2 linked regions of the Homo sapiens genome follow. The protein of the gene in region 1 purifies or fractionates together with the protein of each later gene. This does not show direct contact. Each region holds a gene or a part of one and is shown on either strand. Other genes may lie near its edges.

The links.
Region 2: the proteins of AGPS (region 1) and CSRP2 fractionate together in Homo sapiens (co-fractionation; one large-scale study listed by BioGRID). This does not show direct contact.

Annotation. Positions count from the first base shown.
Region 1 is NC_000002.12:177,430,686-177,434,341, forward strand, and holds part of AGPS (alkyldihydroxyacetonephosphate synthase, peroxisomal precursor), read left to right. Parts: intron 1-3,641; coding exon 3,642-3,656. UniProt on the Homo sapiens protein: Catalyzes the exchange of the acyl chain in acyl-dihydroxyacetonephosphate (acyl-DHAP) for a long chain fatty alcohol, yielding the first ether linked intermediate, i.e. alkyl-dihydroxyacetonephosphate (alkyl-DHAP), in the pathway of ether lipid biosynthesis.
Region 2 is NC_000012.12:76,868,955-76,872,610, reverse strand, and holds part of CSRP2 (cysteine and glycine-rich protein 2), read left to right. Parts: intron 1-2,759; exon of another isoform or gene 2,760-2,912; intron 2,913-3,656.

The DNA of each region.
Region 1 (3,656 bases):
AGTCAGTCCTGATGTGAGAACGTGGATATTTTAGTTGAAGGTGCTGAATTCAGTTGCTATTTTCATTCTTCTCCATGACAGCTGCGGATCACAGCTGCTTCTAATCAGCCATCTCAGTCCCTATAGATTTCTATAAACTAAAATTTTTGAAAAATGTCACTATTTTTGACTTTATGGGTATTATACATTAGTTTGGTACTTAGAAATCACAAGTTAGTATATAAATGAAAAATTTGAGTTTGTTAGACTTTGTCTTTTTGATGGCATAATTTTTAATTGAAGCTTTATCTGATTATAAAAAGGCTGTTAAATTGCTTAGCAATTGTGGAACTCACCCTGAGGCTAGATGATTGTATATACTTATCAGGGGAACCCACCCCCAGTATTTCAACATAGGTTCTATTTTCCCTAAGTGTCGGCTGGTCTGAGAAATAAACAGAAAGAGTACAAAGAGAGGAATTTTACAGCTGGGCCGCCGGGGGTGATACCACATTATCGGTAGGTCCATAATGCCCCCTGAGCTACAAAACCAGCAAGTTTTTATTAGGGATTTCAAAAGGGGAGGGGGTGTACAAACAGGGAGTAGGTCACAAAGATCACATGCTTCAAAGGGCAATAAAGATCACAAGGCAAAGGGCAAAGTAAAGATCACAAGGCAAAGGGCAAAATTAGAATGACTGATGAGGGTCTGTGTTCGGCTGTGCACGTATTGTCTTGATAAACATCTTAAACAACAGAAAACAGGGTTCGAGAGCAGAGAACCGGTCTGACCTCAAATTTACCAGAGCGGGATCTTTTCCCCACCCTAATAAGCCAGAGGGTAATGCAGGAGAACAGGGCGTAATTTCAGTCCTTATCTCAACTGCATGAGACAGACACTTCCAGAGCAGCTGTTTATAGACGTCCCCCCAGGAATGCATTCCCTCCCCAGGGTATTAATTATTAATATTCCTTGCTGGGAAAATAATTCAGCGATATCTCTCCTGCTTTCACGTCCTTTTATAGGCTCTCTGCAAGAAGAAAAATATGGCTCTATTGTGCCTGACCCCGCAGGCAGTCAGACCTTTGGTTGTGTTCCCTTGTTCCTTAAAATTGCTGTTATTCTGTTCGTTTTCAAGGTGCTCTGATTTCATATTGTTCAAACACACATGTTTTACAGTCAATTTGTACAATAGTGGTCCTGAGGTGACCTACATTCTCAGCTTATGAAGATAACAGGATTAAGAGATTAAAGGCAGGCATAAGAAATTATAAGAGTATTAATTTTGGGAACTGATAAATGACCATGAAATCTTCACAATTTGTGTTCCTCTGCCATGGCTCCAGCCGGTCCCTCTGTTCGGGGTCCCTGACTTCCCACAACATATACTAATATTTTTGCTGCTTCTTATGTGCTGCCCCAGAGTGAGAGTCACTTTGCTTTTAGTCATTGTCAGTCCTGATGTGCACTTCCCTCTTGGATAATTTTTGTCCACAGAATTTTTTCTTTCCATGTAGAATGATTTCATTGGCCTTGAAAACTTGTTCTGGTTCTGTATCTTCTATAATATAGTCTATTTCAGCCCTATGGGAAAGTGATAAATTGATCTCACCTTATATTTTACAACAAAAGCCATTTAATATTCTCAAACTAATCTTCAGTCATGGAAAAGAAGAAGATCCATTCAGTAGTCACTGTGATTCAACAATTGGTATAAGTGCTTAACTTTCCCTTTATCACATCTCTGGTTAAAGTTTCATGTTCTCTGCCCATGTGTTCATCTCACAAATTAAATGTTGCTGTAGCTTTGACTAAGCTAGGTTGCAAGTTTCTTAAAAACAGGAGTCATAATACCAATTCCATGTATTCTGCAATGCTAAGTACAGTCTTCTGAGTGTTAAATAAATATTGTGCATTCAGATATAGAGATATAAAGACTTTATTTTAGTGATAGAAGGTAGTTTTAAATTTTATACATGATAGTAACACTAACTCTGTATCTGTAGTTTCAAGTATCTTGAAGGTGGTCACCTTTTTATTTTATGGGAATACCTGAGACTGGGTAATTAATAAAGAATAGAGGTTTATTTGGCTCATGGTTCTGTAGGCTGTGCAAGAAACATGGCATCAGGGTCTGCTTCTGGTGAGGACCTCAAGCTGCTTCCAGTCCTGCAGAAGGGGAAGGGGAGCTGGTATGTGCTGAGATCACATGGTGAAACTGAAAGCAAGAGAGAGATGGTAGGGAGGTGCCAGGCTCTTTTTAAACAACCAGCTCTTGAGGGAACTAACAACTCACTCACACTTCTCTCCCTTCCCCCAGGGCATTAATCTATTCATAAAGATATACGTCCATGACCCAACCACCTCCCACTAGGGGATCAAATTTCAACATGAGGTCTGGAGGGTTTGGTGTCCAAACTACAGGACTCCTTTAAGAGAGTGAAAGGATAAATCACAGAGTAAGAGAAAATGTCTAATATGTGTATCTTTCATTTTATAAATATATAAAGATTTCTTACATGTAATTGAGAAAACAATAACCCAGGAGGAAAATGAGCAAAAGACTTGAACTGGCTTTCAAAATGGAGGATATCCAAATGGACAATAGTTATAGGAATAGATGCTCAATTTCATAAGTACTCAGTAAAATTCAAATTAAAATTGTAATGAGATGCCAATGGAATGTCTCAGATTCAATTATAGAATTTCTGTTGTGTTCTTTTTTATAGTTTTTTATTTCTCTGCTAAGATTTTTTTTCTAATATTCACCAGGAGTACATTTTCCATTTTGTCCATTGGCGTAGCAACAATAGCTGCTTTAAAACCCTTGTGTGCTACTTCCAGTATCTTGGGTCATTTTGGGGTCAGTCATCATTAATTGTCCTTTTTCTTGAATATGAGTCATACTTTCCAGTTTGTTCTTGTCTAGTAATATTGGAGTGTGTTTTGGACATTGTACATGATATGATGTAGGAGCTGTGGATTCTGTTATATTCCTCTGAAGAGACCTTTAAAAGACTTTTTTTTTCTTAAATCAAGCAATTAACTTGACTGATCTGAAACTCTAAATTCTGTCTCCCTGTGGTGAGCAGCTGAATTGCCTGTCCAGTTTTTTTTTAAGCTTAACTGGGCTGCCTAGAAGATTCCAGTATGTATTCTATACATGCTATTCAGAGTCAGCCAGACATTTGGAGAGAGCTGATAGATTGGTTCCTCTCTTACTTGCTTCTTTCTGTGATTTCTCGGTATGCTTTCCAGATGCAGCATTCACCCCAAACACTGTGCTCTGGTTCTTTAAGCCAGGAAGACTGTAAATTTTCAGCATTTTTATTACCTTTTGAGGCACCAGCTGGGGCCTGCCATAAGGCTAAAACTTATGGAAAAAACAAAACCAAACTGGAAACTTATGAACTTATGTAGTATTTTTTCCTTTTTTCAAGTGTAGCACACCCTTCTCCCCTATTTTTGACTGCTTTTGGTCTGTCTATACTGCCTTTAGATAGCTGGGTTTTGTTTGTTTTGTTTTCGTTCAGAGTTTATAGTTACATGTGAAAGTGTTGGTTTGATAGTAGCTGCTTGACCATCACTGGAAGCAGAATTTAAGCTTTAAATTTAAATGAAGATACTTTGCTCTAATATTTTTACTTTCTTTGTACCTTAGGTACCCTCTTAGTGG
Region 2 (3,656 bases), on another chromosome or scaffold:
ACACCCTAGCTTTTTAGTATGCAAATGCAGGGCGCCATGATGTTCCACACACGTGGGGATATGTGGAGGCTGCCCTGTCACCAGGCACAGGTGGGGCATTTGCATGGCCCACATGGCCTGCATTTGCATATCAAAGGTTGCTGGCCTGGCTCTAAGAGCCAGGGCTTTACAAGAAACTTTTCCAGAGATGCTTTAAAAAATGAAAACTTCCCAAGGACCCCTTTTCCTCTCTATCTGCCTAAAATAATTTCGTAATAACTCCTACCACAGTTATCTAGAGAGTGAGCTAACTGTACCATAAGACGACTCAGACTTAGACTATATCAGTTTTTCCGCATGGGTGAGTCTTATGAATTTTGGTGGCATCTTAGGCTAAGAAGAGGTAGCAAGGAGAAATTGCACATAGGTGTTCAGATATAAATCACGTTGTAACATGTAATACAGTGGATAAATCCTAGTGCTGGAACTCTTTCAGACACTGAAAAACAAGGAACAAGACTGAGAAACAGAATTTGCCCTATTTTATCACATGTAAAGTGGGATTTTATTTTTGCTTTTACCATTCTGTAAATTAATGCCTAGGATTTGGGAAAGGCATGCAGCCCAGATTGCTTAGTGCAAATCCAGTTTGCTGTGATTAATGGCAGCTGTAGTGGAGTAGTACGGCCAAAGGCTTGTAAGAAAAATGAAGACTTGCTTTTTTTTTTTTTTATGCACAGCAATGCCAAGAGTGACAGAAATGGAAGATCATCATACTTCTTCCAGCCAAATTCAGGAAATGTCCATTAGAGGTTCAGCCTAAAAGTGCAAATTTGAACTTCGTTTCTTTTCTTTTTTTTTTTTTTTTGAGTCGGAGTCTTGCAGTTTCACCCAGGCGGGACTGCAGTGGCACTATCTCGGCTCACTGCAAGCTCCACCTCCTGGGTTCACGCCATTCTCCTGCCTCAGCCTCCCGAGTAGCTGGGACTACAGGCACCTGCCACCGCGCCCGGCTAAGTATTTTTAGTAGAGACGGGGTTTCACCGTGTTAGCCAGGATGGTCTTGATCTCCTGACCTCGTGATCTGCCCGCCTTGGCCTCCCAAAGTGCTGGGATTACAGGCGTGAGCCACCGCATCCGGCTTGAACTTTGTTTCTTAGACAGTCACCACCATATGTGGAACTGTTGCTTTACTTTGGAGTGCATTTTAATGTCCCCAAAAAAGAAGGTTTATAGTGACCAATCAGCTCAGTTTTGTCCTTACCTTGTTTGTTGCTCTGCAGCTATGTTCTAGGTGCTGGTTGGTGGGTTTTCCTACTAGAGTACTGATAGCAGGCTGGATAGAGTGAGATGTCCCCTCTGTCTTCAAGCTGACAGCTACTGGATTCCTGCCAAGGCATTTGCTTACCTTATCTTGCCTTCACAATATTTCTGTGGGTAGAGAGAGCTACCTATCCCCATTTTTAGCTTGAGAAAATGAAGCCCAAGGTTGCGCAGCTATTATAACGGTGGAGTTAATCCAGGTGTGTTTAAACCAGTCAATCAACTTCCTCTCCCTCCTTCCATTATGAAATAGTTCAGACATACAAAGTAGAGAACAATATAAGGAATATTCAACTATCACCATCCACTTTTTTTTTTTTTTTTTTTTTTTTTGAGACAGGGTCATCTTGCTCTGTTGCCCAGGCTGGAGTGCAGTGGTGCAATCATAGCTCACTGTAGCCTTGACATTCCCAGCACAAGCAATCCTCCCACTTCAGCCTCCCAAGTAGCTGGGACCAGAGGTGTGTGCCACCATGCCTGGCTAATTTCTTTTTAAATTTGTTTTAAATATAGGTAATATAGCGTCTCCCTAAATTCCAAATTCCAAAGTGTTGGGATTACAGGCATGAGCTACCACACCTGGCTCCCTAACCATCTTAAAAAAAAAAAAATGTAAATCCAACTGAAGCTTTCTGACAATGTTCTTTTGTTACATCATTTCCCTCTATCACAGAAAAGGTTATTCAGAAATCCTTAGGAAAGCCCTTAAGCTGGATAGAACTGCAATATTTTGATATATGCAAATACTCTGATAGATGGTGTGGAGAATACAGAGATGTGGTCCCCACCATCAAGGGACCAGAAACTTATTGCACAGTAAGTTGAATGTTGTGGAACTTTGATAGGTATTTCCTGAAAAGCTGACACATTTACGTTTGGCTGGTGCAGTTAACTTAGAATAAGTAAGTTTAAAGAAACCCTGAATTACATAAAGAAAGGGAAGATATTCCTTCTTTCTTAAAAATCCAGGCTGTTCTTCAATGGTATGGAAGAGAATAACAAGGTTATTAGTTGGGTTTTCCTTTTAATGTATTTTTAAGTGTTATTCAAAGACAGCCTAGTCTAGCCTCAGTCGTGATAGCAATCTGGCTCCTTACTGGTGATTGCTCCAAAGTAAATATGTGTGAAAATGAAAAATACCAAGTTGGTATTAACAGTTCACTTTCTAATATGAGAAATGTTTCAATGATAGAAATGCCTCGACAACAACAAAGTATTTTAAGAACCAGTTGATAACTTGGGATCCAATATAAGTAATTGTAGTGTCATTACCTGGAGGCCTGGATTTGGCCTTTGGTTCTGCAGGAATCATGAGGGAACTTCCAGCAGATGTCTGTTGCATCCATGAGCATTCAGAATACAGGTAGCTTTGGAGGCAAGGGGCAAGGTCAGTTTCTCTAACTGTACTACAAACACGGGTCAGTGCAGGCTGTTGGAGCCAAGGCTTTATGTCTTAGGTTTTACCGCCAGGCTTATGTTTCACTCTGGATTTCAACAATGGAGTGCCTGTCTCCAGGGAGGAGAATAAAAGATTTATGCAGCTACAAAAGGAAAGCTTGTAAACATGTCCTATTGTCGCAAGATACTGATCCTATATGGATGCCTTCACGGTAAGCCTGGTAACATTTGTGGACCCTTGGAATGACTTTGTTCCTGTCTGGTTAAGAGAAGTTGGCTTTTTGCAAATTCAGACTTACATTTTAGTGATAACAAGCCATACCAGTCAGGGGTGTGTGTGTGTGTGTGTGTGTGTGTGTGTGTGTGTGTGTGTGTGTGTGTTGTTTGTTTTAAGGAACAGGAGCTCCAATTCCAAATGACTTAAGAAGGGAATTTATTGGCTCATAACTGAGGCATGCAGGATAAGATAAGGCACAGTTGATTGGCCGTGACTGAGTCACATGCCCAGCCTTGGAGTTGGGGGTTGCTATGGTTTGAGTGTTTTTGTCCCCTCTGAGAATCATGTTAAAACTTAATTCCCAATGCAACAACGTTGGGAGTTGGGCCTAATGGGAGATGTTTAGGTCATGAGGGATCCACTCTCTTGAATGGATTAGTACCACCATAAAAAGGCCTGGTGGGAGCGGGTTCACCCTCCTCTGCTCTTCTGCCATGTAAGGTACAGTGTTCCTGGCCTCCAGAGGATGCTGCATTGGAGGCACCATTTTGCAGCAGAGATGGGGCCCTTAGCAGACACTAAACCTGCCATACCTTGATCTTGGACTTCCCAGCCTTCAAATATTTATATTCTCAGTCTGTTCTTTATAAATTACCTAGTCTCTGGTATACTGTTATAGCAACACGAAACAGACTAAGATAGGGGTAGAGTCAGTACCATCTAAAACCAGTGCTTTTCT